6 linked regions of the Homo sapiens genome follow. The protein of the gene in region 2 purifies or fractionates together with the protein of the main gene of each other region. This does not show direct contact. Each region holds a gene or a part of one and is shown on either strand. Other genes may lie near its edges. The genes, in order: PRPF40B, MYEF2, SFXN1, NKAP, ADNP2 and NPHP4.

Region 1 (5,236 bases), on a different chromosome or scaffold from region 2:
CCTTTCTCTCCAACTCATGACCACCAATGCCATTCCAGCCCGAATTCTGTGGCATATTTAAAGAGCATAGGTAAGGAGTAGTGAAAGAGATAGATAGTCCCACCCTGCCCTCACATTAATGGGGTCTTTTCCCTTCCACTTCTCCTACCTCTAGCCCCAGTGTGTCCTAAGGTCAAAAAGACAAAGGGGGAATTGTCAATGTTATGTACTGAGGGCTTCACAACAGCTCTCCCCAACCCAATGCTCAAGTAAAACCATCCCTCTTCCAAGGTCAGCAAAAGGGGCATTACAGGAAAACTGTGCTGGTGATGCAGCAGTGGCTAGGGGCTGGGGAGTTGGGGGTGCAGGCTGGAAAAGCCAAGCCCAGGGAAAGACATAAAACTTACGAAGGGTGGTGGCATCATGGGGGGCCCCGGTGGGAAGGGGGCAGGCGCTGCTGGGGGCCGGGGACCAGAATCGGGAACCGACTGTTGAGGGAGAGAAAAGTCATAGGACCCAGGATGGGCACAGAGATGGGCTTTTTGCAGAAGGGAAGCAGAAGTGGTGAGGATGAAAAAGGAGCACAAAATTCAGGAGGGTCTTCAAGCCCGATTTCCTGCCCACCCCAAGCCCTTAGCCCTTGGTAGGTTTGCTCTCTCTTGTGCTTTTGCTCTCTCTTGTGCCAGCTCAGAGCCAGCTGGCTGAGCCCCTTGAATGTCATCTTTATTTTGAAAGTTTCCATTTTGTCAAAGCAACAGAAAAGATGAAGGAGGCTTCACTACAGGCACAGACTGGCTCTACCTAAGGCTTCTAATCCATTATCCTGCCTGTGGGCAAGGCTGTGCCTCTCTCAAATAAGTTAGAGGTCTCTTTTATTCCCAAAGTATCTAGGGAGGGAGTCGCCTCTTTTCTAGTTCCCCTAATTATCCCAGTTACAGAGATTCAGTCCAAAGCTCTCTCAACACAAATAGTCGCTAGTCCTTTAAAATGCTTGTCTCCCTAATTCTCATCTCTTCATGACCAGCTTCCTCCCCTAACTGACCTCATCCTTAGCCACCTACTTTCTTTGACATCTTCCACTTCCAATCGCCAACTTCATCTCTTTGGCTTTATCTCCATCCCCTTTTTGGTGTCCATCCCCTCCTCTACAAATCCTGAACTATCTCCCTGTGGATGTAGGCTTTGAACAGCTTAGGTTGCCCTGTCCTACCCCTAATGGCTGTCTGCATCCCATCCTTTAGTTCTCAGCTTAAGTATCACTTATTTTAAGACAACTTCCTGACTGTATTTAAAGTAGCTCCTTCCTATTTCTCTATCTGATCCCCTTTTTAGTTTCCTCATGTACATAATTTTGTAATTATTATGTTTGCCTGGATATGTTTTCCCCAACAAGAGTGTAATAACATTCCATGAAGACAGGGATCATATCTGACTTGTTGGAAGCTGTATTCCTGGTACCTACCAGCATCTGGCACATAATAGGTATTCAGCAAATATTGAACGAACGAAGAACAAACAGAACAAATCTCTATATAGAACCTTCTACTTCTAAAAATTAATTTTATAGGTATAGCCCTACATGGCCAAAATGCTGTATGTTTAAGGTTTTCATTTCAGTATTATTTGTAAAAACAGAAGATTGGAATCAGCCTAAATAGCCACCAGTAAGGAGCTATGAAATTATATATACACATAAAATGCAGTGCTATACAGTTATAAACAAGAATGAAGAAGCTTATTGTCTCGATATGATCTCTAAGATGTATTAACAAGTGGGAAAGAAAGCAAGGTGCAGCAAACTTTTATCATTTGTATAAAAGTCAGAGACAAAAGATGATACACAAGAAATGGTAGAAAGGGACAGAGATAAAGGGGAGACTTTTCCCTGTATGGCTTTTGTATCTTTTGAATACGCAGCCATATGACTATATTGCCCATTCAAAAACAAACAAACTCACTGTAAGTGAACCGAGGCTTGGAGATGCAGCTAAAGGGCCCAGCCCTTCTGCCTCTTTGCCTGAAAGTTAGGGGGTGATAGGGAGGAATCCCGGGGAAAGGTGGTATCTGGCTGAAGAGAAGGTACCTCACTGCTGCCAATTTCCCCTATGTTGAGAATGCTCAGCATTTAAAAACGCCCTTCATGTCTGCCTTTAAAATATCTGTTCCTGGCTGGGCACGGTGGCTCACACCTGTAATCCCAGCACTTTGGGAGGCCAAGGAGGGCAGATCATGAGGTCAGGAGATCGAGGCCATCCTGGCCAACACGGTGAAATCCTGTCTCTACTAAAAATACAAAAACAAAATTAGCCAGGCGTGGTGGCAGGCACCTTTAGTCCCAGCTACTCGGGAGAGGTGGGAGAATGAGGTGAACCCAGGAGGCGGAGTTTGCAGTGAGCCGAGGCGCCACTGCACTCCAACTCCAGCCTGGGCGACAGAGCGAGATTTCGTCTCCAAAAAAAAAAAAAAAAAACTGTTCCTGGCCTGGTGCGGTGGTTCACGCCTGTAATCCCAGCACTTTGGGAGGCCAAGCGGGCAGATCACCTGAGGTAAGGAGTTCGAGACCAGCTTGGCCAACATGGTGAAACCTCTACTAAAAATACAAAAATTAGCCAGGTGTGGTGGCACACGCCTGTAGTCTCAGCTACTGGGGAGGCTGAGGCACGAGAACTGCTTGAACCTGGGAGGCGGAGGTTGCATTGAGCTGAGACTGCACCACTGCACTCCAGCCTGGGTGACAGAGTGAGACACTCTCAAAAAGACAAAACAACAACAACAACAACAAACTGTCCTTCATCTTGTCCTAAGAAGAAAAGGGTATGAGCTAAACCTCTCCAATGTGACTCATCTTTTCTAAGTGCTCAACTGCTTTAGTTCTGTATTCAGACTTGCTCTTGCCCCTGACGCTTTCCTCAGCATGGGAAGTCAGAAACTAATCAATAGTGGAGGAAATACAATTTTCTGTGTCACACTTTCCCATCTCAAGCTGCCTCAGGAGCCTCTCTAACATCTTTGGGTCCTACCAGGCTCCAGGGGAGCCTCAGAAGCGTCTCAGAGACTGGCACCACACCATTCAATTGTCCAAATGGAAACCTATGAGTCACTCTCCACAACTCCCTCTTCCTTGCCAATAAATCACCAAGTCTTGTTAACTTTACCTCCTCAAGATTTCTTGAATCTATCCATTTCTCTCCATTTCCTTTTCCACCACCCATCTTGCCCAAGCCACCATCTTTTTTCATCTAATTGCAGTGGCCTCCCAACTGTTTTCCCCACATCCACTCCAATCAGCAGCTATAACAAGCTCTTCAAAGTGCACCTCAGACTGTTAGCCCCCTGCTTAAAACTCTTCAATGGCTTCCCACTGCTCTTAGGGTAAATAGTAAACCCCCTACCCAGTACTATGAGGGGGTCTGCTACCCAGCTACCTTGCCAATCTCCCCCATGCTGAGCTCCTGGGTCTCAGTTCCAGCCCTACTCACCTTCTCTCAGCTCTCCCACCTCAGGCATCCACCTTTGCCTGAGAAAACTGGGTTGGCCCTGCCAACCCCACACACCTTGCCTACTACACTTCACATCTACCAATCATTTCTTCACGAAAGCTTTTCCCAACTCCCTGAACTAGTCAGAGCCCGCTTTTATATACTTGTACAACACCATGTACCTTCTCCTTCGGCAATTATCCATTAGAATTTTATAGTTATTTGTATAATCCTGATTATATTATTTTTCTATTTGGCATGAATAAAAAACAAATGCTGCCAATTAAATTATAATATCCTGTCAATTTGAAGATGCATCCTGACTTGACAAATGTTCAAATATGAGTCTCAGAATTAATGAAATATAATATCCGTGGCCCCTACTAGACTGAAAACACTGAAGGGCAGGGACTTCATCTGTTTTTGCTCACCTCATATCCAGTTCCCATTGTGTTTTCCTTACCACCATCTATGGGTACAAACTAGGTGCTAATAAGTATGTGTTAACTGAATGACTAAATGGTCTTGGCAAGTCCTACAAAACAGTAGGGGGCCACTGGTAAGTTAGGTCTAGTAGTTATTCAGGGAACATAGAATGTCAGAACTGGAGGAGACTCTGGCAGTCACCCAAGGTATCCCCCTTTTTCAGGGAATAATCTGTCCAAGGAGCCACCACTGGTTAGGGACAGAACTGGGACTGGATCCAATCTGCCCTCTAGCCCTCCTCCCTTAAAAGCAAAGCTCCTACCACATGAAACAGGTCTGTTTGCAATCTAGTATATCCCCTGCAACCTAAGTGGTTAAATCACCAATGATTCAACGTTTTATTGAGAACTTACCGGTTCCCGATTGCCTACCCTACAAAATCTTTCATCTAACAGTCAAAGCCTTGCAACGAAGGCCGCCCCACACTCTTCTTTGCTCATCCTGACTCAATGGCTTCCCTCCTCCTCTCTTTGCACAGAATTGTTAGATTACCCTCAAGTGAAACACATTTCTTTTATTCTACAGTCTCATGCTTTGTTCAAGATGATCCAATATTCACCTCCTTCAGGTTACCCTTATGACTATCCCACACACATACACACACTCCTACCTGTGTCCCTTCAGGATAAATGATGCACTACTTTGCAGAGTGACATGCTACTCTGTGAATGTTTGCTGGGTGTTTCATGTGGGACTGCTTGTCTCCCACTCATGTGGGGATTTCCCTACATTCAGGGATTGAGTTTTCTCCTTTTATACCTCCCCCAAGTGTTTAGTCAGGGCCCTGCACACAAAGTGCTGTGATAAAATGCAGTCTCATCTCTAACCTTATTAGATTTTTGCATACTGGAATATCCTAAAATGCACTTTGAAAACAGTGTATACACGTGTGCATATGTACATCTGTATAAATTCTCTGACATACAGGCTGTGACAGAGAGAGGTAGCTTGGCAGAAGTCTTTGTGGCTTGGAAAAAGGAAATTGGATTGAAATGTTGGCATGAGAAAACCTAATAAAGCTAACTGTATACAGTCATCTTCAACTTGGGATGAAGACCTCTGGCCAGGATTCAGACACTGGCCTATTCTGGACAGTTCCCCACAGAGGACAGAACAATGGAATAAACATAAACTACTACAGAACTTCCAAAGCCCTTCCTTCGCTGAGCTTCCCGTGTTGTGTCCCTGCTTTCCTGAAACACCCCGTCCCTCTCCTACCTGCTGCAGTGCCATAAAACTTTGGGTCTTATTTTATTTCTGGGTGAGAATATGAAGACATTAACTAGTGACAG
Region 2 (5,236 bases):
CTCAAAAACAATTTAAAAAAAAAAGCAAGTTACATAATACATTATGATATCACTCAAACAAAATTTTAAATCCAACAAAACAATTCCCTATGTTTATGGATGTACAAATGTGTAGTCAAATTATTAAAACCTAAATGATAAATACTCTATCCATAAGTTGTTTCCTCTGGATAAGGCATAAGTTGAAAGATGGGCAAGGGAGATGGGGAAGCTCCATTTTACCATAAAATTTTATTTATTTTAAAGAAAAAAATCTACAACAAATATGGCATATGATAACTATATGAGTAATTTTACTTTTGTCTGTATATTTAAGATTTCTTATAAGAATACTTTAAAAACCAGAGAAGATGCAGTGAAATAGTAAAAACAATAGCTAATATTTATTGAGTGTTTACATTATGCCAAAATGATTCTAAGTGCTTTACATATATTAATTCATGTAATACTCATGTCAACCCCATGACGTAGACAATATTATTCTCCCCACTTTTCAAAGGAGGCACTGAGACACAGAGGCACTGAGACACATAATACAATAAGTATATTACACTGTTATAGTCATTTTGGAAAACAATTTGATAATACTAACCCATGAGAACTGTAAATCTACTTCAGAATATCTGTCTGAAGGAAGTACTCAAAAACATTACAAAGATTTGTGAACAAAAAGGCATGTGTTACTCTGTGGTTACTCAAAAGAAAAGTTAAAACACCTAAAATACAGAACAGTGAAATAGTTATGGAACATCTATATGATAGACTATTATACTACCAATAAAAATATTTGAAAAGAATCTTCAACATGAAAAAATGCTTATACTCTAATGTTAAACAAAAAATAATTCAAAATTATTTTTGTTCCCAACTATGTAAAAAATATACATAGCAGGCTAGAAGAAAATACACAAAAATGTTATAATGAGGTTACCCACAGATGGTGAAATTACAGAGGACTTTTTTTCCTTCAAGTGTATAAATTTACCAAACATTTTAGAATGTATTGCTGATTAGTCAGGAAAAGTTACCAAAGAGAAAAAAAAAATGGCACGTAACACTTATCTTCTCAGTCTTCCTAATCAATAGCGCCAAACTATCTTCATAACTCCAAACTAATCCCAAATTGTGAGAAACTAGGATGTAGGCACAAAAACAAAGTGTTGCTTAGCACATAATAAAACAAACCAAAAAAAGCCTATGTTGTTTCTCATAATAGCTTTTACTTACGTGGTAATTGTGGTGTTTTACCATCATGTGAACGGTACTCTTCATGAGGAACAGACTTGTCATCCTAATTGCAAGAAAGTTTATAATATGGTTAACATATTACCACAAAGAACTGTAATGTAGAAGAGAGCCAATAAAAGATCTGAAGAGGTTGGAGGTTGAAGTGATATACAGGAACTCACCATTTTCACATGCATAGGTCTATCAAATAAAAACTGCCCATTGAACATAGCTGTTGGTTCAGTCAAGGAAAGTCAGTTAAGATAACTATAAAATTATAACAGAACACAAACTAATTTTTAATAATCTTAGAGTCCAACTCTCTGATATTTTAATTAACATCTTTAATACTTATTGATATTAGCCACTTTCATATACTCAAAAAAATATTCAATTCTTTGCTTTACGGTTTTATTTCATCAATAAGATGTATTTTTAATTCAACCATTGAAAAAAGTAAACTCGTAAGGCTTCGCTTAAAGTAACTGCATTAATATACAATAGATTACACAATTGTTAAATCCATGTATACAATTAATTGTGGTAGGAAGAAAGAAAAGAAAAAACTTCATACCAGCCCTGTACAATATGGCCAATTCAAGTTTTAAGAGTGACTTTAATACTTGGACCTACTAAGGGTTTTATTTGCTGGAGACTAAAGTCTAACACACATCTCTAAGCCAGGCAACCTTAAATTCAATTACCCCCCGCCAAAACAAAGGTGGTATTATGCTTCTTCAACCTCATAAACAATGCTGAAATGTAAATCAGGATACAAATTGCTTGAACTGCTTCAATTGCTTGCTCAAAAGTGACAGTGCCCATTCCTCTGCTCTTGCCATCTTTGTCTTCTTTAATATCTGCCCGCTTCACAGTTCCAGCTATGCTGAACACTTCCTTTAGCTTCTTCCAACCAACTTTGAAGTCAAGCTTAATATAAAATTGTATAAAGTTACATACCTAATAAATCCATCTCCCCATCTGTAAATACAAAAAATCTTTTCTAAACTCTTAAAACCATAAAGAACCATAATTCTAGTTCAACAATATATTGATAATGTTCAAATTTTAAAACATCTTCAGTTGCTTAAAATCATTTAAGCTACGTCTACATTGTTCCTTATCCTTATTTTTTTTAATTTCCAAAATCATCTCTCAACTGCTCAAACCTGTTTTGTACATTTGAAACTTGCATATCTATTTTTACCAAGAGAAATCCAGATTTTGAAAAGTATTGTTTTCACTGACTTTCAGATGCTTAGAACAAATAACAAACCAACTATGGCATGCATATTCACAAATATCAAGACTAAAAAAAGAAATCCATTTACCAATATAAACCAAAACACATATAATTTCAAGAACTGCTTGAATGTGTATAAACTGCACAGTTCCATGTTTAAAAAATCCAAATAGTTGTATTTAAACTCTAACCTTGTGCGTGTGTGTGTGTGTGTATATATATGTATATACGTCAATTGATTTTGAGTTTACAATAATTACTATTTCACTTACTTTAGTTAAAAATAAGCAAAATGTTCTATAAACCTATAACTCATTCATTTAATCAAATTAGCTATCTATCTGAATGACAAATTTTAGACTAAAGCTTGAACTTACATTGGCAACAAAAATTGTGGAACCAAGTCTACCGGCCTGCAAATTACTGATGACTTCAGGAGGAATGTTTGGATTATTGAGTATGGAAGGTGGTAAATTCATCAACCCTGATCCCATATCAGGGACGTGTCCTCCTGGAAATGATCCTCCTGTTCGCTGCAATGCCCTACGAGCATTTTCTCCATCAGGATCCTATAACACACATTGAATGTTAAATTCCACTAAATACATCACTAATTCTACAAAATTAAAATAACAATTTAAATTCTACAGTAGCTATCCTGTCTGGCTCAAATTATTGACCCTCTTGAAGAGTGAGCTTTTTTCTCATCCAGAGAATTGAGTCCCATAAAAACCTGTGGATAAACAAAATATTTCAGCCTCCAGAGATGTCAGTTAATTTTTTTTTCCAATCACTAAAGCCACTTAAGAACTTGAAATTAGTTTAATTTTGCTCTCACACTAGGGTACATGCATACATACATGTAACTCAAAGAAGAGCGAAGTACTCACTGCAACTTTTCTTTCCAAAATGTAGGAATGGTCATTTCTCACTATTGGATGCCCAATGGAATGCCAAATTCAGACTAATTCAAAGCTTTTCAATACTGGAACAGACTGTTATAAAACCCAAATACTGGGGTAGAGGATAGGATGGCCGACTGTAATCTGTAAATTTTATTCCTGAACAAAATACAGTTACCCACCTTCTAAACTCTTACCTTCTTCAACAATGATTATAATCTGAGATGGAGGAGAGGAGAGATAAAGGAGGGCTAAATGTCCAAGTGAGAAATGATATTAAACATTGTTTTTTTGTTAGGTTCATTAATTTTTTAAGAGAAACACCCTACCTTTAAACAAAACCAAACATACACACACACACACACACACACACACACACACAAACATAAATGTACTTCTCACTCATCCCACTAGGTGGAATACTAAAAAACAAAAATAAATAAACAAAAACCACATAAACACATGGATAGACTATCATCTGCAATGCCAAATGATTATGTTAAAGGTAATCACCCCATCATCACTTCTCTATCTTTAGGCTAAGATGAAGTGTAAAGGTAACCATCAAATCTACTTTGCTGGCCTCAGTCTGGGAATACAGTACTAATAAAAAGAAAGTCAAGTGATTTTAATAAATTCTCTAGGATGGCTGGAGAATAAAAGGTGAAAAGGTAAAATAATAAAACCATTCTGGCTTGCAACATATTTCTTCACTATGAAGGAATAAAAAGGATTACAAAAGAAAAAAAAAATGTATCAAAGAATGCTTCAAAACATATAAGTTAATAAATAAATTCTTTAGGCCTGAGGATTCAAAAAGAGGTAAAAATACGAAATTTAGGACAGTGGCTACCTATGGGGAAGAAAGATAACTCAGAAGAGAAGATATTTCTTCAACTAGTATAGTAAGCTATTTCGGTTGTTTGTGCTTATAACATTAACAAGATGTATTGCTGTGTTGATCTGTCTTTTATATACATATATATGACAGAAATATATACACATACAATACATGCATACATACATAAAACATATATAAAATAAAATTTATATAAAACAAACCACCTACTATATAACATGACTTTTACTCTTCTTTTCCCCTTGCTGTCAGCCTGCTGGTTACTGACTGCTATTGCTTTTGGAGGGCCTACAATAGCAGTTTATAACTGCTACTATTCTGCATTTAATTAAATGAAAAAAATGTAACTCTAAAGTCTGTTAAGGAACATTGGAAATACACCTTCCTTAGACTTTCCTCAGTAGCAGTTCTAAGCATTCATTCCATCCACCCCTCTATAAATTAGATATCCCAGGAAAGGGACTGCCAAAGTGACATTAATTCAAAAAAGTCAACTGAATAAATCCCTCATCATTTAGCTAGGCCAAATTTAGCCTTTTTTTTTTCTCTTAAAAAAGTTAAAAATGGCGGCATCCTCTTTCAACTTGGATTATATAACTCCAGGGTCTCTGAAATATTACTGAGGATCTACAATGTGCTGAAACTTAAAAGAACACAATAACATGATATTTAGCATCCAATATTATATGGAAGTTTATTGGATGATATTTAGCATCCAATAAACTTTTTTTTCCAATAAAAGAAAAAGACACTAAGAATCTGTAGTACATGTCCTTTGAAGAGAAACAGAAAACATAAAACAGAAAATTGTCAGGTTGGTGCAAAAGTAAATGCAGTTTTTGCCATTATTTTAATTCAAAGCTTTTTTTAATGGCAAAAACTGCATTTACTTTTGCACCAACCTAATTTAATCCTCAAAATAATCATTCTGATTATTATAATTTAAAGAAAATTAAGATACCAATATATTTCTGAAGCACTGGCCCTGGCTTATGCATAAAAACC
Region 3 (3,500 bases), on a different chromosome or scaffold from region 2:
CCGGGCACAGTGGCTCATGCCTGTAATCCCAGCACTTGGGGAGGCGGAGGCGGGAGGATTGCCTGAGCTCAGGAGTTCAAGACCAGCCTGGACAACATGGAGAAACCATGTCTCTACTAAAAATATAAAAAATTAGCCGGGCATGGTGGCACATGCCTGTAATCCCAGCTACCTGGGAGGCTGAGGCAGGAGAATCGCTTGAACCCGGGAAGCAAAGGTTGCGATGAGCCAAGATCACGCCATTGCACTCCAGCCTGGGCAACAAGAACAAAACTCTATCTCAAAATAATAATAATAATAATAATAAATAAATAAATAACTGGTACATCCATCCATCGAACAGATTAACCAACTCATATAAACAACAGGGTGCTTCTCAAAAGTGTTATGCAAAGTCAAAGAGGTCAGACACAAAATACACAAAATATGTATCTACTCACTGTATGATTCCATTTGTGTGAAATTCTTGAAAAGGTAATATAGTGTTAGAAAACAGATCCATTGGTTGGCAGGAAGTGAGGAAATAACTCCAGAGGGGCCCAAGGGAACTGTTGGAGACATGGAAATATCCTGTACCACAATTCCGGGGCGGTTACACCACTGAGTATATTTTTTCAAAACTTAGCAAATTGGACACTTAAAGTGGATGACTTTTATGGTATTTAAATTATACCTCAATAAAGCTGATTTAATTTTAAAATGTTACAAGATCATAGAAAAAAAGGAAATGCTTCCCGATTCATTGCAACCCTGATACAATAAATGATTTAAAAAATACAAAAAGAAACAGTGGCCTGTCTTACAAATTGATAATGCAAAAATCCAAAGTAAAACACCAACACATAGCATCCAACCTTGTGTTAAAACATGAACTGGTAGAATTTATTCCGAGAATGAAAAGGTGATTTATATTTAGGACATTTATTAGTGTAATTTATCACATCAATATGTCAGAGCAAAAAAGCCACATCTTGATAGATGCCCAAAAGAAGGTAAAATTATATATCTATTTCCCATAAAATAATTAATCAGCTAGGCATAATGGGTGGTACTTCTTTAATTATGAAGAATGCATATCCCACATCAGTAGTGAGCAATGCACGAAATAATGGAACACTAGAGCTGAACTTCCCAAAAAGACCTCTAAAGGAAAGGAACCCTGGCCGGGCGTGGTGGCTCACGCCCATAATCCCAACACTTTGAGAGGCCAAGGCAAGTGGATCACCAGAGGTCAGGAATTCGAGACCAGCCTGGCTAACATGGTGAAACCCCGTTTCTACTAAAAATACAAAAAATTATCCAGGCATGGTGGCACGCACCTGTAATCCCAGCTACTCGGGAGGCTGAGGCAGGAGAATTGCTTGAACCTGGGAGGTAGAGGTTGCAGTAGCCGAGATTGCGCCATTGCACTCTAGCTTGGGAAACAAGAGTGACACTCCATCTCAAAAAAAAAAAAAAAAAGGGATCCTATGGAATACTTAAAGAAAGAAAAGAGGGGGGTGGGGGAAGGGAGAGAGGGATCAAGAGAGGCAGAGAGAAAAAGGGAGAGGATTTTGGTAGTCAAATTTGAGAAAGTTTGCATTCCACTCTTGAGAATGTCACATTCTATTAACTGTTCGAAGTTTCCAAAAAGTCCAGGAGTGAAAATAAAGCTGCTTAATCATTTTTCCCAAACTTGGACATGAGCCCTTTGTTTTTTTTCCATAATGTATGTAATATGTATGAGAATACTCGGCCAGGCGAGGTGGCTCACGCCTGTAATCCCAGCACTTTGGGAGGCCAGGGCAGGCAAATCACCTGAGGTCAGGAGTTCAACACCAGCCTGGCCAACATGGTGAAACCCCGTCTCTACTACAAACACAAAAACTAACCGGGCGTGGTGGCGCACACCTGTAGTCGCAGGTACTCCAGAGGCTGAGGCAGGAGAATCGCTTGAACCTGGGAGGTGAAGGTTGCAGTGAGCCAACATTGCATAACTGCACTCCAGCCTGGCAACAGAGCAAGACTCCATCTCAAAAAAAAAAAAAAGAAGAGACCATAACCAACTGAACAACCATAGAACAAATTAAAATACAATGAGGGGGCTATTTATAATAGACACAATGGTAGTTTCCTGTATAAAAGCAACAAGCAATTAGACATTGTTTTTTATTCACTTCATAAGAACAATTTTTTTTGGGCGGGGAGGGTGCGGAGTCTTGCTCTGTCGCCCAGGCTGGAGTGCAGTGGCGCGATCTTGGTTCACTGCAAGCTCTGCCTCCCGGGTTCACGCCATTCTCCTGCCTCAGCCTCCTGAGTAGCTGGGGCTACAGGCGCCCGCCACCACGCCCAGCTGATTTTTTGTATTTTTAGTAGAGACGAGATTTCACAGTGTTAGCCAGAATGGTCTTGATCTCCTGACTTCATGATCCACCTGCCTCGGTCTCCCAAAGTACTGGGATTACAGGCATGAGCCATCGCACCCGGCCAGAACAATTTTTTAAAAATGTAAAGTACTTGGGAAGAAACGCACCCAGAAATTTGCGTCAATGATGAAAACATTTGGAATCATGTTAAGTTTGAGTAAATGGAGAAATGTGCAGTAGGCCTGGGGAGAAAGGCTGGAGATTGTAGAGGTGTCAGTTGTCTCCAGATTAATACGATTTCAGTCAAATTACAACTGTGGTCACCTGTAAAACTGATAAAATAATTCTGACCGGGTGCAGTGACTCATGCCTGTTATCCCAGCACTTTGGGAGGCCGAGGCAGGGGCATCACCTGAGGTTAAGAGTTCAAGACCAGCCTGGCCAACATGGTGAAACCCCATCTCTACTAAAAATACAAAAAAAAAAGCTGAATGTGGTGGCGGGTGCCTGTAATCCCAGTTACCCAGGAGGCCGGGGCAGGAGCATTGCTTGAACCCAGGAGGCGGAGGTTGCAGTGAGCCAAGATCACGCCATTGCATTCCAGCCTGGGCGACAAGAGTGCAACTCCATCACAATAATAATAATAATAATAATAATAATAATAATAATTCTAAGGTTTATCTGGGAGAATAAATTAGTATAAGGCATCTTAGAAAAAGAAAAAGAAGAATAGCGTGTGGGACGGTTGCTCTACCCAAGATTAAAATTGACTGTCAAGTTAAAATGGTGGGTATTGGCATCAGAATATGTAGATAAGTGGAAACACAATAGAAAGTCTAGAAATCAAGGCTGGTATTCACAAACTCTCAACTGATGCAGGCCAGCCAAAAGAGAAAGTTAAGAATGTTTCACATTTTCTTTTCTTTTCTTTTGAGACTTAGTTTCATTCTTGTTGCCCAGGCTGGAGTGCAGTGGCACTGTCTTGACTCACTGCAATCTCTGCCTCCCGGGTTCAAGCAATTCTGCCTCAGCTTTCCGAGCAGCTGGGATTATAGGCGCCTGCCACCATGCCCAGCTAAGTTTTATATTTTTTAGTAGAGATGGGATTTCACCATGTTGGCCAGGCTGGTGTCAAACTCCTGACCTCAGGTGATC
Region 4 (4,991 bases), on a different chromosome or scaffold from region 2:
TAGTACACAAAAATCCATTGCATTTCTATTTACCAGCAACAGACAACTAGAAAATGTAACTAAATAAGAAGAAAACATTTGTAATAGTATCAGAGAATATGAAGGACTTCAGAATAAATCTTAACAAAAGATGCCCAGGGCTCTGTGAGGAAAACTATAAAACATTATTAAGAGATTGTGTATTCAATACAGTTCCAATAAAAATGAACTGCATTTCTATTTACTAACAACAGAAACCTAGAACCTTGAACGTTTATAACAGTGTCAGAATATGAGAGACTTAAGAATAAATCTTAACAAAAGATGCCCAAGGTTCTATGGGGAAAAATGTAAGACATTAAGAGTCCATATCTTCAATATAGTTCCAATCAAAATCACAACACAGTTGTTTATGAGACTTATTAAGCTGGTTCTAAAATTTATATATTACACTAAAAGGACAAGAATAGCCAGGTCACTTCTGAAGAAGAAGAGCAAGAAGGTAAGATTAAAGAAAACTTAAATAGCTGGAGAGATACCAGGTTCACGGATAGGAAGGCAATATTGTAAAGTTGTCATTTCTTCCCAAATTGATCTTTATATTCAATACAGTCCCAATCAAAATCAGAACACAGTTTTTCATGAAACTTAATAAGCCAGTTCTAAAATTTATATACTAGACTAAAAGGACAAGAATAGCCAAGTCACTCCTGAAAAAGAAGAGCAGGAAGGTAAGATTTCCCCTACAAATAGGAGGACTTATTATGAAGCTTACAGCACTTTAGAAAGCATAGGAGAACAACTGAATTGTTCAGTGGAATAAAATTCAGGCCGGGCGTGGTGGCTCATGCCTGTAATCCCAGCACTTTGGGAGGCTGAGGCGGGTGGATCACCTGAGGTCAGGAGTTCAAGACCAGCCTGGCCAACATGGTGAAACCCCATCTCTACCAAAAATACAAAAATTAGCTGGGCGTGGTGGCTAGTGCCTGTAGTCCCAGCTACTTGGGAGGCTGAGGCAGGAGAATCGCTTGAACCCATGAGGTGGAGGTTGTAGTGAGCTGAGACCTCGCCATTGTACTCTAGTCTGGGCAACAAGAGCAAAACACTATCTCAAAAAAAAATAAAATAAAATTCAGAGCCCAAAGATAACCATACACGTATGGAACTTCAGTGTATGAAAGAGATAGCATGTCAGATCAATGGGGAAAGAAAGAACTATTCAGTACATGAAATAGGAGGCTGAGGCAGGAGAATCGGTTGAACCTGGGAGGCGGAGGTTGCAATAAGCCGAGATTATGCCACTGCACTCCAGCCTGGGTGACAGAGGGAGACTTGGAAGTTAAATCCACTGATAAAAACTGCTGTTCAATTACAGATTTAGACTTGGTTCTTTTTTTTTTTTTTTTTTTTTTGAGACCTAGTTTCACTCTTGTCTCCCAGGCTGGAGTACAGTGGCGCAATCTCAGCTCACTGCAACCTCCACCTCCTGGGTTCAAATGATTCTCCTGCCTCAGCCTCCCAAGTAGCTGGGATTACGGGTGCCCACCACCACACCCAGCTAATTTTTGTATTTTTAGCAGAGACGAGGTTTCACCACGTTGGCCAGGCTGGTCTTAAACTCCTGACCTCAGGTGACCTGCCTGCCTCAGCCTCCAAAAGTGCTGAGATTACAGGCGTGAGCCACCATGCCCAGCCTAGACTTGGTTCTTTTGGTTTTATGGTAAAGTAGAACCTTGAAGGAAGTTCCATCTGATTAATGACTAGTTAAATGTTTTATCTATCCTACTTCCAATTCCACAAAGGCAAATGGATATGTCACCTAGGAAGTTTAATAATTTGCCCATTTCTGATTGTTTTACTGGAAACAAATTAGACGTATACCCTTAGTATTTGAAATTAATGATAGCGGCCAGGCATGGTGGCTCACACCTGTAATCCCAGCACTTTGGGAGGCCAAGGCAGGTGGATCACCTGAGGTCAGGAGTTCGAAACCAGCATGGCCAACATGGCGAAACCCCATCTCTACTAAAAATACAAAAATTAGTCGGGCGTGGTGGCACACACCTGTACTCCCGGCTACTCGGGAGGCTGAGGCAGGGGAATCACTTGAGCCCAGGAGGCAGAGGTCGCAGTGAGCCAAGATTGTGCCACTGCACTCCAGCCTTGGTGACAGAGCCAGACTTTAAGACTCACAAAAAGGAGAAAAGAAAAAAGGATAGGCCAGGCGCGGTGGCTCACGCCTGTAATCCCAGCACTTTGGGAGGCCGAGGTGGGTGGATCATGAGGTCAGGAGATCGAGACCATCCTGGCTAACAAGGTGAAACCCCGTCTCTACTAAAAATACAAAAAATTAGCCGGGCGCGGTGGCGGGCGCCTGTAGTCCCAGCTACTGGGGAGGCTGAGGCAGGAGAATGGCGTGAACCCGGGAAGCGGAGCTTGCAGTGAGCCGAGATTGCGCCACTGCAGTCCGCAGTCCGGCCTGGGCGACAGAGCGAGACTCCGTCTCAAAAAAAAAAAAAAAAAAAATTAAAAAAAAAAAAAAAAGAAAAAAGGATAACATTTACTATGTTGACAGGAAATCAGAGATCATTATTTGAATAGTGGAAATGAATCAAAGACATATCAGGGCCGGGCACGGTGGCTCACGCCTGTAATCTCAGCACTTTGGGAGGCTGAGACAGGCGGATTACTTGAGGTCAGGAGTTCGAGATCAGCCTAGCCAACATGGTGAAACCCCATCTCTACTAAAAATGCAAAAATTAGCCAGACCTGTTATCTCAGCTACTCAGGAGGCTGAGATGGGGGAATTGCTTGAGCCAGGGAGGTGGAAGTTGCAGTGAGCCGAGATCGTGCCACTGCATTCCAACCTAGGCAACAGAGCAAGACTCCATCTCAAAACAAAACAAAAAAAAAGGACGTGTCAGGCAGCTAAAATATTAATAAATGATCTTTTGGAAATTTAACCCATTTCAATTTTTGTCAGCTGTTAAATAGACCACTCTGGGTAAGAAAGGATTAATGATGATGTACTATGAAAATAATTACTGAGAAATTAAGCCAAAAATAAAATTCTCTCCAGGCATCGCCGAATGGAGGCTGTGCGACTGCGAAAAGAGAACCAGATCTACAGTGCTGATGAGAAGAGAGCCCTTGCATCCTTTAACCAAGAAGAGAGACGAAAGAGAGAGAACAAGATTCTGGCCAGTTTTCGAGAAATGGTTTACAGAAAGACCAAAGGGAAGGATGACAAATAAAGATTTTCTGATTGTCCAGAAGACATTTTTAACAACAAAAAAGAAAGTCTGGGTTCCACACATACATAGAAAAAGATTATTATGTTCTGAGAAAGCTTTACAGTGCTACTGTGCCTTCTATTTAATTCTTTCAGTCCTTCAATAAAAAGCTGCTTATTGATATAACTTTAGCAAGTTCTTTGGGTTATTTTGGATTGACCATAGTAACTTTCTGGTTTAAAAATCCAAATTATGGGCTGGGCACGGTTGCTCACGCCTGTAATCCCAGCACTTTGGGAGGCTGAGGCGGGTGGATCACTTGAGGCCAGGAGTTCGAGACCAGCCTGGCCAACATGGTGAAACCCTGTCCCTACTGAAAATACAAAATCAGCCAGGAGTGGTGGCGCACACCTGTAGTCCCAGCTACTCGAGAGGAAGAGGCAGGAGAATTGCTTGAACCTAGGAGGTGGAGGTTGCAGTGAGCCGAGATTGTGCCACTGCACTCCAGCCTGGGCGACAAAGCAAGACTGTGTCTCAGAAAAAAATAAAAGGCCAGGCACGGTGGCTCACGCCTGTAATCCCAGCACTTTGGGAGGCCAAGGCGGGTGGATCACCTGAGGTCAGGAGTCGAGACCAGCCTGGCCAACATGGTGAAACCCTGTCTCTACCAAAAAATACAAAAATTAGCCGGGCGTGGTGGTGGGCGCCTGTAATCCCAACTACTCGGGAGGCTGAGGCAGGAGAATTGCTTGAATCCAGGAGGCGGAGGTTGCAGTGAGCCGAGATTGTGACATTGCACTCCAGCCTGGGCAAGAAGAGTGAAACTCTGTCTCAAAAAAAAAAAATCCAAATTATGAATAAAATGCTACTGTATTGGAGGAGGTGGCTTGAACAAAAAGTGTTAGTGAGATGAGAAACTTCAATCTCACACCATGAGACAGTGCTACTATTAGCTCTATGTGATGCCTGCCCCACCCCGACCTCTACCCCAGCTGAACTTTTGGGAAATTATCACTCCTCTGTGTTGAATGTGTTATAAATGGACTTGATAGGAACATATAGGAGGCCACTTTTGTTAACAAAATGAAGGCATTGCTGCGAAAAGCAAATCTGGAATTTGAAAACTGACTTGTGTACTATAATATATGATCTACCCTGGAAATAATGGGTTTTGATTTAAGTCCCTACCTCCACTCTAAAACCAACAAACAAACCAAAAAGCAAACTAACCCACAGATTTGTTGAATTGAAAATGTGAACATTAGATATTTTAAATTGTTTTTTTTGAGATGGAATCTCGCTCTTGTTGCCCAGGCTGGAGTACAATGGGGTGATCTCGGCTCACCACAACCTCCACCTCCTAAGTTCAAGCAGTTCTCCTGCCTCAGCCTCCTGAGTAGCTGGGATTACAGGCATGTGCCACCATGCCTGGCTAATTTTGTATTTTTAGTAGAGATGGGGTTTCTCCATGTTGGTCAGGCTGGTCTCGAACTCCCAACCCCAGGTGATCCGCCCGCCTTGGCCTCCCAAAGTGCTGGGATTACAGGCATGAGCCACTGCGTCCAGCCTAAATTCTTAATAAGTTACTTAAAAATAGTTATTTGAAATATAAAGTCTTAAGAAGTCTACTCTTATCCCCATGTAAATACTTTATTTCAATCTGAGCTGATATGAGCTTGAGGATAGGATAACATCCAAAAGAATAGGAGTCAACTATGGTCAAGAGTTTTGATAAGGAAAAATATAATGAGTCAGTATTTTAGCTTAATTGTTTCATAA
Region 5 (5,236 bases), on a different chromosome or scaffold from region 2:
TCACCCCAAAGCCCACTTGGCCTCAGCCTTCCTCCCAGTCCCCACCCCTATAACCACTCTCTCACTCACATCTTCCACCTGGGACTGTACCAAGTTGTCAAGAGGTCCACATTCCACTGTAGTCCCAAGTTGGGGGCTGGCACAGATTGGGGGTTGGGGGGGAGGTGGTTGAATGCACTTGCTGTGGCATCTCAGTGTGCAGCAAGGTGGCAACCATTCCTGTCCTGCACTGGCAGCACCAAGGTATGTTTGGCAGGTAACTTGACAAGGGTCCCTCGCCCATCCCAGATCCAATGTTAATTTCTGATCAGATGTTAATTTTTATAAAAAACAACTCCTAAAGAGTTTCTATGTGCAGCAGGGTTTAGATATAGTTTAGAAAATATTAGATTCGTGGAAGAGTCTACCTTTCCTAGGGCTTACTTTTCTCAGCCAGGCTACTGACAAGAACAGCCTCCTATTGGAGGTGTTAACTCTTGCTAAGATTGAAGTCACATGTGCTGTGTAAATCTTACAAGAAGGCAGAGCGACATACCACTCTGAAATCTGAAATACAGAGCAAGGCAGCAGTGAGGACGATGGACAGGTAGTTTCCTTGGTTCTTTCTCTCTACAGGGTTGGTTCTCCAGTCAGCTTGGATTTTTTTTTTTTTTTTTTTTGAGACGGAGTCTGTCACTCTGTCACCCAGGCTGGAATGCAGTGGCGCCATCTCAGCTCACTGCAAGCTCCGCCTCCTGGGTACATGCCATTCTCCTGCCTAAGCCCCCCAAGAGGCTTCCAATAAATCTCCTTTTGTGTAAATTGGTCAGATTGGTTTCTGCTGCTTGAAAACAAAGAACTCTAATTGCTGTGGTGGATTAAGAATAAACGCACTTCACATGGAAAAAGGTTCTCACTATGCGGTTCAGTGAAAAAGAAACAACAGCTGGTGCAGTAGCTTATACAATTTGATTATATCCTTTTAAGAAAAAAAATGTGAATATATCCCGTTTTTAAAAATCTATAGATATATAACAACGTTAATTCTGGATATTTCAGGGTAATGGTTTACGCGTGAGTCTTACTGTCTTGTTTCTGTGTCTGTTTTCTCATTTTCCTATAAAAAACTTCTGTATTACTTGAATTTTCAAAAATTTCATTATAGGCCCAATTACAAATAAAATTTTCTCCCCAAAATAGTTTTACTAATTCAACAGTTAATCTAATTAACAGTTTAAGCCATTCAAATCTCTTAATTTTCCCTTGTGAAGTACCGTATCTCTGCATCAGTAAAGTCTTGGGAAAAAAAAGTAAACAGCCGTGAAGAACTTCAGAAGAGTAAACACATTCTCAGGCTAAGGAAGCAAAAGTTCACGAGCAATGTTCAGTTCCAGTCAAGTCAAAAACAAAGGACTCTAGGATGAAAAACTTTTGTTGTTACTGACATGTTACTTAAAAATAAAACAAATTTCCTAACAGAATTCCACCTTAAAAGATTGAATTGACCTCAAAAGGAGACTAAAGAGACATGACAACCAAATACATACCTGATCCTAGACTACATTTATTAATGAAGGGGAAAGCAAGGCTATAAATGATTAGACGAGACAAAAATGTCATTACCAATGACTACAAGGATATATAAGAACTTTTTTTTTTTTTGAGACAGAGTCTCACTCACTCTGTCACCCAGGCTGGAGTGCAGTGGTGCTATCTCGGCTCACTGCAACTTCTGCCACCCAGGTTCAAGCAATTCTTGTGTCTCAGCCTCCTGAGTAGCTGCAACTACAGGCGCCCGCCACCACACCCAGCTAATTTATGTATTTTCAGTAGAGACAGGGTTTCACCATGTTGTTGGCCAGGCTGGTCTCGAACTCCTGACCTCAAATGATCCATCCACCTCAGCCTCCCAAAGTGCTGAGATTACAGGCGTGAGCCACCATGCCCGGCCAGGATATACAACAACTTTTATTTAACATTGTTTAAAACTATATATGCCAACTATGTATTCTCAATGTTATAAGGACAGACAAAATTTTAGGAAAACTTTTCTGAGATCACATATACAACTACACAAATCAGGATTAAAAAAAACCCTATCATTTCATTTATGCATGCCCATTTGTTGATTGCTCTAACAATACTGGGAAATTAAGTTAGTTTTCTTTTGCTAAAATAACAAATCACATTTCCCTCAAACATCAAAAACAATTTTTTAGTAACTAATGACTAGAAAAATCCCCTCCTTAAAGTAGCTTAAAAACCTGAACAGCTTAAATAGCTCACTTTATGTCATAAAGACATAAATAAGTACTAATGAGGCTTTCACACAGCCATCTGAAGTATAACAGCAATTTCCATTTTGAGGAATCTTACCCACTCTTCAAAAACCCGAGTTCAAATCTCACCTCCAGATTCCAGTTGGCTACTTACGTCCTCTTACCTTCAGTAACTCCTTGCAGCTGTCAAGCCCAATATCCACAAGAATACCTTTCACCTTTTTTCGCACCTTTCTGATGTTGTCAAGATTTTCCACAGGAATTTGAAACATTTTTGAAATTTTCCTTAAAAGGAAAGAAAACAAAACTGTAATAAGTACATGTATATAATACACAAAAATACATTTTTTGACAGGGTTGGTAAAACACTAGGAATAGAGTATAATTTTCAACAAATTGTTGTAGAACGAGTGAACATTCATATGCAAATGAATGAGGTTGACCTCTTCCTTACACCATATACAAAAATTAACTCAAAAGTGGATCACACACCTGTATGTAAGACCTAAAACTATAAAACTCTTATAAGAAAACGTAAGCATAAACATTGATGACCTTAGATTCGGCAAGGAATTCCTAGATAGGACACCAAAAAGCACCAGTAATGAAAGAAAAAATAGGTATGGACTTCACCAAAATTAAAAATTTTTATGCTTCAAAGGACACCATCAAAAAAGCAAAAAACCCACAAAACGGGAGAAAATATTTGCAAACCATTATTCCTTTCTAATAAGGAACTTATATGCAGAATACAGATAACTCTTGTATCTCAATAATTAAAACACAGATAACCCAGTTTACAAATGGGCAAAGGATCATAGACACTTCTCCAAAGAAAAATGTCCACTAAGGTACATGAAAAGATGCTCAGGCAGGGAACAGTGGCTCACGCCTGTAATTCCAGCAGCTCAGGAGGCTGAGGTACACAGATCAGGCAGACTGTTTGAGCTCAGGAGTTGAAGACCAGCCAGGGCAACATGGTGAAACCCTGCCTCTACAAAAAATACAAAAATTAGCCAGGCATCCTGGTGCGCACCTGTAGTCCCAGCTATCCAGGAGGCTGAGGTGAGGGGATCACCCGAGCCCAGGAGGTCAAGGCTGCAGTGAGTCTGATCACGCCACTATATTCCAGCCTGAGCAACAGAGTGAGACCCTATCTTAAAACAAAACAAAAAAAAATGCTCAACATCATTAGCCATTTGGAGAAATGCAAATTAAAACCACAAAGAGATACTGTGCCCACCAGGATATCTATAAAGAAAAAAAAAAGGAAACGTGTTGGCAAGGACGTGGAGAAATTGGAACTCTCATACATTCCTAATAGTAATGTATACCAGTGCAGCCAGTCTTCATGTGTGCCTGAAAACAGTCTGGCTGTCCCACAAAAGATTAAAAATATAGGTAACATATGAACCAGCAATTCCACTCAAGAGAAAAGCATACATCCACCCAAAAACTTATATAAGGATGTTCATGACAACACTATTCAGTCACCAAAATGTGTAAACAAACCAAATGCCCCTGCATTGGGGCATTTGATAAATAAACTGATGACTGGATAAATAAAATATGACATATCCATACAATAGATTATTTGGCCATAAAAGAAATGAAATACATACATGCTACAATATGGACAAACTTTGGAAATATGCTAAGTAAAAGAAGCCAGACACAAGGACCACATATTGTATGATTCTATTTATGTGAAGTGTCCAGAACAGGCAAATCCATAGAAAGCACAACAGTGGGCCGAGTGCAGTGGCTCACACCTGTAATCCCAGCACTTTGGGAGGCCAAGGTGGGTGGATCACCTGAGGTCAGGAGTTCAAGACCAGCCTGGCCAATATGGTGAAGCCCCATCTCTACTAAAAATACAAAAAATTAGCTGGGCACCTGTAATCTCGGCTACTCGGGAGGCTGAGGCAAGAGAATTGCTTGACCCTGGGAGACAGAGGTTGCAGTGAGCCGAGGTCGCGCCACTGCACTCCACCCTGACCAGTAAGAGCAAAACTCCGTCCCCAGAAAAAAAAAGCACAACAGTGGCTGCCAGGGCTGGGAGAACTGGGAAGTGATGGAAGCAGGGCTTCTTCGTTCTGAACTCAACTGTGGTGATGTATACGCAATGTGAATGAGCCCACAGCCATTCACTGTACACTTCAAACTGGTGAATTGTATGGTACATAAATTATATCTCAAGCTGTTTAAAACAATATCTAAAAAGGCACAAAATTAAAATAAACCCTGTAGTACTTGACCAGACTAGGGGTTACTGAAGTGAACTCATTGTTTTCAACACACAGATAGAAGAATAGAGATAGTTTGAGAGTGTGTGTCCACATACACACATACATTCCATAGCTCTGCCCACTGAGAGTGCCTGGATGCAGTTATACACCCCAGTAGCAGTGGGCACAACTAGGGCTCAAACCTGAATTCCTAAATACCGCTTTCCTTTAAAAAGAACCCTAGGAAAAATGGCTGGAGCATGGTAAAGACAAGATGAGCCTAGAACATCCTGTGCCGGAATATAAAGCAGTTGCTCAATGAGGCATGTCAACAGAACACAGAAGTAACCAGCTTGAAAGGGCTCCCATAGGCCAGATACGAGACAATGTGGGCATATATCAAGTAACAGATACAACCTGTGGCAAAGTGAATTTTCCAAACACACAATACCTTCCAACCCACATGCTCTTACAATACGGCCCTAACACTCCTCCCAAAAGTGGCAGCATCTAATGCCCCCTCCTGACCTTTGGGCAGAACTTTGTGGCTGCCTTGACCAATCAAGTATGGAGGAAATAATGCCATGAGAATTCCAAGACTAGATCATAAAAATGCCACATACCTCTCTCAGGATGATCATGCCCAGAATCTAGATACCACATGTGTAGAAAGTGCCAACTAGCCCACAGAGACACCAGGTAGAGGTGTTCCACATCAACTACCAGCATGGGAGTGAAGATGCCTCTTGA
Region 6 (5,236 bases), on a different chromosome or scaffold from region 2:
AGCTGCAGAGGAAAACGGCCTTGCCAAGCCAAATCCTGTAAAAAGGGTTGACAATGGCAAGACTGATCCTTCTCACGCATTCCCACCGGCCACTGGGCCTCACGAGGACAATCCAATCGTGTGGGTGTCCCGTGGGCAGCAGCACAGAAGCACCAGCTTGTCCAGCAGGTTCCCCGCCAGCTGAAGGGCACAGATGGATGTGCCGCCATCAGGGCCTGGGCCTGAGTGTGCCCAAGGCCGTGGTACATCCAGCCACGCACAGAGCTGCCAGAATGCCCGTAGCTCAGCCCCTGCAGTCCTCACTGCCAGGCTGAAAGCGGGCCATGCTGAGCCATGCACAAGGCCACCTGGCTCACAAATAACCCAGGAAATCAGAGTACTTGGGTTTTTAAATTGCTCCACTGTGGGCAGAAAGAAACCCTACCCAGAGTCAAAAGTGCTGACCATGTCATTGAATCATAGATTCTCTTTGCTGATGGGCCACTTTGCATCCGAATACTGCCAAGGCCCAAGGTAATGGGTATGGTGGTATAAGACTCAAACGAGTAAGTGAAAATCAATACAGATGCTCTTTGACCTATGATGGGACTCTATCCTGTTTAAGTTGAAAATGTCATAAGTTCAAATGCATTTAATACCCTTAACCTACTGTACATCAGAGCTTAGCGTGGCCCAGCTTCAACATGGTCAGAACACTTGCATGTTCCTACAACTGGGCAAAGTCATCTAACACAAATCCTATTTTTAAATAAAATGTTGGGTATCTCCTGTAATATATTGAAAACAGCACTGAAAGTGAAAAACAGAATGGCTATATGGGTACCACCATAAAGTAGCAAAATCAAAAATCAAAGCATCGTAAGCCAGGGACCATCCATCTGTTAACTGGAAGCCTCATGTCAGCTAAGAGCAATAACACGCATTTGCTAACAGCACATTTTGTTACCTGCCTAATTACCGGTCCGTCCAGCCACTTGAGGACACACTGGAATGCCGTGGATTCCTTCCAAGGCTGGCGCGCTCTCTGTGGGTGGGGAGGGACAAGCACGTTTTGGGTGAAGATCCTGTGCCAGTCGTTCATCCTGCCCGCCTGAGGGTCCCGTGGGCTTCCCGGATGATCTGTGCCAGTCGTATTCAAATAAAGAGAAGAGCTGTGAGGGCTACAGTGGTCACAGCAATCCTGAAGGCTTCTGCCTCCCACTAAATCCCAGAGGAACCTCCATCCCCCAAACCCACACTCTGCAAACCCCAGAAGAGTGGACTTTGTTGCTGGCTGGCACCCATGCTGCCTCCTCTAGGAAGTACCATTTGCATTTCAAAAAGGAAAAATAAACGTAGATATATTTATTTGTATTTGCTTAGAATTTATGAAAGCTGTACAATAACACACTGTATCTAGGGTGATACACCAGGTACCTGGGGTCAACATGGGATGATTCACTTTTCCTGTGTATCCTTGTCAACTTTGAACTATGCGAATTACCTTTTCAGAAATAAAAATAAAATGGAGAAATAAAATCTACCTCCAGAGAACCCTCCGCCCCACCCCTACCCCCGTGGGCCAGACTCAGGGCACGACTCTCCTGACCTCTGTGGCTGGTTCCGGATGGGGACATGAAGGGATGTTTTATTCAGCTGTGTAAGTTGGATACCACACAAGGACACCAGGGGTGGGTGGCTGCTGAAATACAGTCCTAGCGTTAAGACTGTCTTGTAGGGGACCCAGGGAGCATGAGAGAGGGAATACAGCCCTTGGGCCAAGAGGTGGTCAGCCTGAAACTGCCCGGGGCCACCTTAGGACACACATAAAAACAAGCAGAGAGGAAAAGGTAGGAGTGAGGGCCACTGGGTCCCCATGTCATTATTAGAGACCTCAGTTGGTCACCCCACGACACTTCAGCTACATGAACAAAGTCTCTTGTTGCTAAAGCCATTTGGGGACAGGTTTCAGGTGTTACCAGCTTCTTGGTGGGTCTTGGCCCGTTTTGAGTGTTATCTGATCCTGTCCAGCCAGACCGGGATCTAAATCTTCTCTAGCCAACACAGAATCCAAAGATCTGAACCTCAAGAAGAGGTTGAATTCCGTAAACTAAAATGGCGAGTAAGGAGAAAAAGAAGTGGGTTTGGCCTTCTAAGACAGCAGCTCTCTAAGTACATTCCCCAAACCCAAGGTTCAACAGGATCCTGTCAGGGGCTCTACAAGGTCAAAACTATTTTCATGACACCCAGGTGTTATCTCTTTCACCATGGTGGCATGGTGGGGCAGAGGCAGCAGCAGGGAAAGCCACTGGGGCCTCACTCAACCCAAGGCTGGTTGGGTTGAGTGAGGTCCTCCCAACCTCTCACAGAAAAGAACAAGGCAGCTTCAAGTAAGAACATCCTTGGTGAAGCCGGAAAAACTATTAATCTTATTACTTCTTGACCTTTGAGTACACACGTTCTTAATTTTGTGAGACGAAATGGAAAATACACAACAAGCATTTCTGCTGCAAACTGAAAGGCAACAGTCATCCCCGGGGAAGCCTGGCTGTGACTGGGCTGCATGCTGAACACACCGCTTTTATTATTCAACACCATTTTCACTAAGAAGAATGACTGAGAGACAAACATGGGTACTTGGCAGACATCTTCTCAAACGTGAACAAAGTTAGCATGTCACTTCCGGGAAAACAACTGCAACAAAAATGGAGTTTCCAAGCAAAAATGAGAATTAAGAACATTTGTATCCTCTACCATGAGCCTACTAGCTTCACACTTCTTCAAGACTTTCCTGATGAGAGGGGCAGTGATATAACGTGATCTTCTAAGGTTACACCATTAAATGTGTCAATAGTTGGAAGGTCTGCATGACTCCGTGAACCAATATTTTCTGAACAATGCGTAATGGTACAAAATCCTGCAAGAAGAAAACATCCACCCAAAGTGCAAGACAGACCAAAGGAGTTTAATGTCAGAGCACGAAGAGTTCATTCACATGGTGGAGACTCTGCTTTAGAACAAATCCTTAAGAAACTTCTGCTCGTAGGGTTTCAATGCAGCAGCAAAGAATATCCACAATGACCCAAGAGACTCCTCCCTAACTAGATCGGGATGGATTTCCTTCACATACTTCAACCAAGGCAACACAAGGCAACAGACTGAGTACAGAAGCAAACAGGAGCCTTCAGCTGTCCTCTCTTAAGGAGACTGTAAAGATATTTGCAAGAATGCAAAAGAATCCCACTCTTCTAAATTTTTTTTTGTTTTGGATAATATAGTTGGTTTTTGTAAAAAATGTTTTTATGTTAACATGTCACAGCCTTATTTTTAAATAAATTAATATTTTTAACATTTCTCAGTTTTAACTTCTATGGCAGTAAACATTGGTAGATATAACTCACATAAACAAAAGTTCTTTGGGGTCCTCAATAATCTTTTAAAGGGTAAAGGGATCTGAGACCAAAAAGTTTGAGAAGGGTTGTGCTAATGGTTCACCCCCTGCATGCTCCCGGCATGTGTGGGAACCGAGAGGACATGACCAGGCAGCCTGAGAGGGGCCTTGGCCCAGGGTCCCGCCTCCACCCACAGTGCACCCAGACGCTGCATCCTTGGCCCAGGGTCCCGCCTCCACCCACAGTGCACCCAGACGCTGCATCCTTGGCCCAGCGTCCCGCCTCCACCCACAGTGCACGCAGATGCTGCATGTGGGCCAGGTATTCCTGAGGACCAGACTCAGTCTGGTCCTGTGTGAATCCAGCAGGCACACATGCTGGTTTGTTCCTTTTTGTTCTCTGTGGGCTATTTTTGTCGCTCAACTTCCCTTGTTTTGTGGAGGACCCTGACCCAATTCCATGTATGGGGAGAGCTGCTCCCCGATTCCAGCCAGAGACTGCAGTGATTGCTTCAAGGAGGAACACATGGCCCACACTGAGCCATCAGTCTTCCCCGGGAGACTTGAGCCCAGGATGTCTCTCCTCCAATGCCCACAACTGCCCACACCATGCCAGCCCAGAGCCCCAGGAGCCACCACAGGGAGAGCCGACTTTGGACTTCTGACCGGCCTAACTGGAAAAGAACAAATTTGTGCTACTTTTAAGCAACCAAGTCTGTGGGACTTTCTTACAGGAGCCACAGGAAATCATACAGCTGTCCACGACTTATAAGCAGAAGACACCTGACCAATACCAGCTCAAGGGCCATCTCCCCCAGGAGGGCTTCCCAGGTGCTCCCAGGGTCCAGGCCCCAGGCTCACATGGCCCCTGTGCTTCCCTTGGTCACATCATTCGTCACCTATCTTGTGTTGAATTGCTCGCTGGCCAAGTTCTTGAAGAAAGAAGCCTCATTCCTCCTGTGTTCTTGGTACCGTCACAACTCAGTAAATGGTCACGGAACCAAACAGAAGCTTTAGCAAAGCTACCCTCAAGCTTTTCTTTCCCACTGATGTTTTATAACATTCAGAAATGTATTCACACACAATGCAGGCCGTGATGGCCCCAGGTGGGGATTTCAGAGAGGAAGTCTCTCCTGACGCAGATGCCCATGCTCCTCACCTGCCCCAGATTTCTGACCCGGTGCCTCCTGCCCTCTCCCTGGGTGTCTGCAGGACTCAGTGCCACACTTGGCCCAAGGACACTGCTGAAGGACGTGCATACGCCAGTCGACCCTCACAGGGAGCATGAAGCATGCCGGCCCCCTGCTGTACTAGGAGGGCAGACACTAGGCGGAAGGGCATCCATTCCGAAAGCACCTGCCACCCACACGGAAGTCCTGAGGCTCGGGATGTGGAGGCAGGGCAGTCCTAGTCTGAGGGGCCACGGAGGCCGAGGTGACACCTGAGACTCTGCAGGTGGGAGCCCAAGCGCCCGCAGCAGCTCTCACTGCCATCCCAGCACCTCACAAACCTCTCCGGGTGCCCTTCCACCTGCTCCTTGCTCCTTTCCACCTCTGCTCTGGCCTCTAGGAGTCAAACCAAATGCTCCCTCCTCAGAGCGAGAGCCCCATCCCCCACCTCCGGCTGCTCCCACACAGGGCAGGTGACAGAAGAGCCACCACGCTTCACCAGGGCTGTGCTGTAGTCCTGCGAGACTGTGAGCTCCATGACACCAGGCTGGGTCTTCAGCAAAAGTCTTTTAAGGATGAAATACAAATGCCCTGGAGGAAGTGCAGAGGGGCCTTTGGGGCCAAATCAACAATAAAAGAGAAAATCGAGAAGGCTCCAGGTCTTGAACCCAAGAAAAGGGTACAGTGGGCTCTCCAG

What was found.
Region 1: the proteins of MYEF2 (region 2) and PRPF40B purify together in Homo sapiens (affinity purification with mass spectrometry; one large-scale study listed by BioGRID and IntAct). This does not show direct contact.
Region 3: the proteins of MYEF2 (region 2) and SFXN1 purify together in Homo sapiens (affinity purification with mass spectrometry; one large-scale study listed by BioGRID and IntAct). This does not show direct contact.
Region 4: the proteins of MYEF2 (region 2) and NKAP purify together in Homo sapiens (affinity purification with mass spectrometry; one large-scale study listed by BioGRID and IntAct). This does not show direct contact.
Region 5: the proteins of MYEF2 (region 2) and ADNP2 purify together in Homo sapiens (affinity purification with mass spectrometry; one large-scale study listed by BioGRID and IntAct). This does not show direct contact.
Region 6: the proteins of MYEF2 (region 2) and NPHP4 purify together in Homo sapiens (co-immunoprecipitation; one large-scale study listed by IntAct). This does not show direct contact.

Annotation. Positions count from the first base shown.
Region 1 is NC_000012.12:49,625,776-49,631,011, reverse strand, and holds part of PRPF40B (pre-mRNA-processing factor 40 homolog B), read right to left. Parts: intron 468-5,236; coding exon 387-467; intron 1-386. UniProt on the Homo sapiens protein: May be involved in pre-mRNA splicing.
Region 2 is NC_000015.10:48,156,766-48,162,001, forward strand, and holds part of MYEF2 (myelin expression factor 2), read right to left. Parts: intron 3,040-5,236; coding exon 2,848-3,039; intron 2,158-2,847; coding exon 2,004-2,157; intron 1,460-2,003; coding exon 1,410-1,459; intron 1,292-1,409; coding exon 1,228-1,291; intron 1,134-1,227; coding exon of another isoform or gene 1,015-1,133; exon of another isoform or gene 362-1,014; intron 1-361. UniProt on the Homo sapiens protein: Transcriptional repressor of the myelin basic protein gene (MBP). Binds to the proximal MB1 element 5'-TTGTCC-3' of the MBP promoter. Its binding to MB1 and function are inhibited by PURA.
Region 3 is NC_000005.10:175,502,560-175,506,059, forward strand, and holds part of SFXN1 (sideroflexin-1), read left to right. Parts: intron 1-3,500. UniProt on the Homo sapiens protein: Amino acid transporter importing serine, an essential substrate of the mitochondrial branch of the one-carbon pathway, into mitochondria.
Region 4 is NC_000023.11:119,923,462-119,928,452, reverse strand, and holds part of NKAP (NF-kappa-B-activating protein), read left to right. Parts: intron 1-3,058; coding exon 3,059-3,233; 3' UTR 3,234-4,991. UniProt on the Homo sapiens protein: Acts as a transcriptional repressor. Plays a role as a transcriptional corepressor of the Notch-mediated signaling required for T-cell development. Also involved in the TNF and IL-1 induced NF-kappa-B activation.
Region 5 is NC_000018.10:80,114,837-80,120,072, reverse strand, and holds part of ADNP2 (activity-dependent neuroprotector homeobox protein 2), read right to left. Parts: intron 2,544-5,236; 5' UTR 2,531-2,543; coding exon 2,423-2,530; intron 2,407-2,422; exon of another isoform or gene 2,388-2,406; intron 1-2,387. UniProt on the Homo sapiens protein: May be involved in transcriptional regulation. May play a role in neuronal function; perhaps involved in protection of brain tissues from oxidative stress. May be involved in erythroid differentiation.
Region 6 is NC_000001.11:5,985,209-5,990,444, forward strand, and holds part of NPHP4 (nephrocystin-4), read right to left. Parts: exon of another isoform or gene 1,589-5,236; intron 1,484-1,588; exon of another isoform or gene 1,417-1,483; intron 1,120-1,416; 5' UTR 1,082-1,119; coding exon 947-1,081; intron 1-946. UniProt on the Homo sapiens protein: Involved in the organization of apical junctions; the function is proposed to implicate a NPHP1-4-8 module. Does not seem to be strictly required for ciliogenesis. Required for building functional cilia.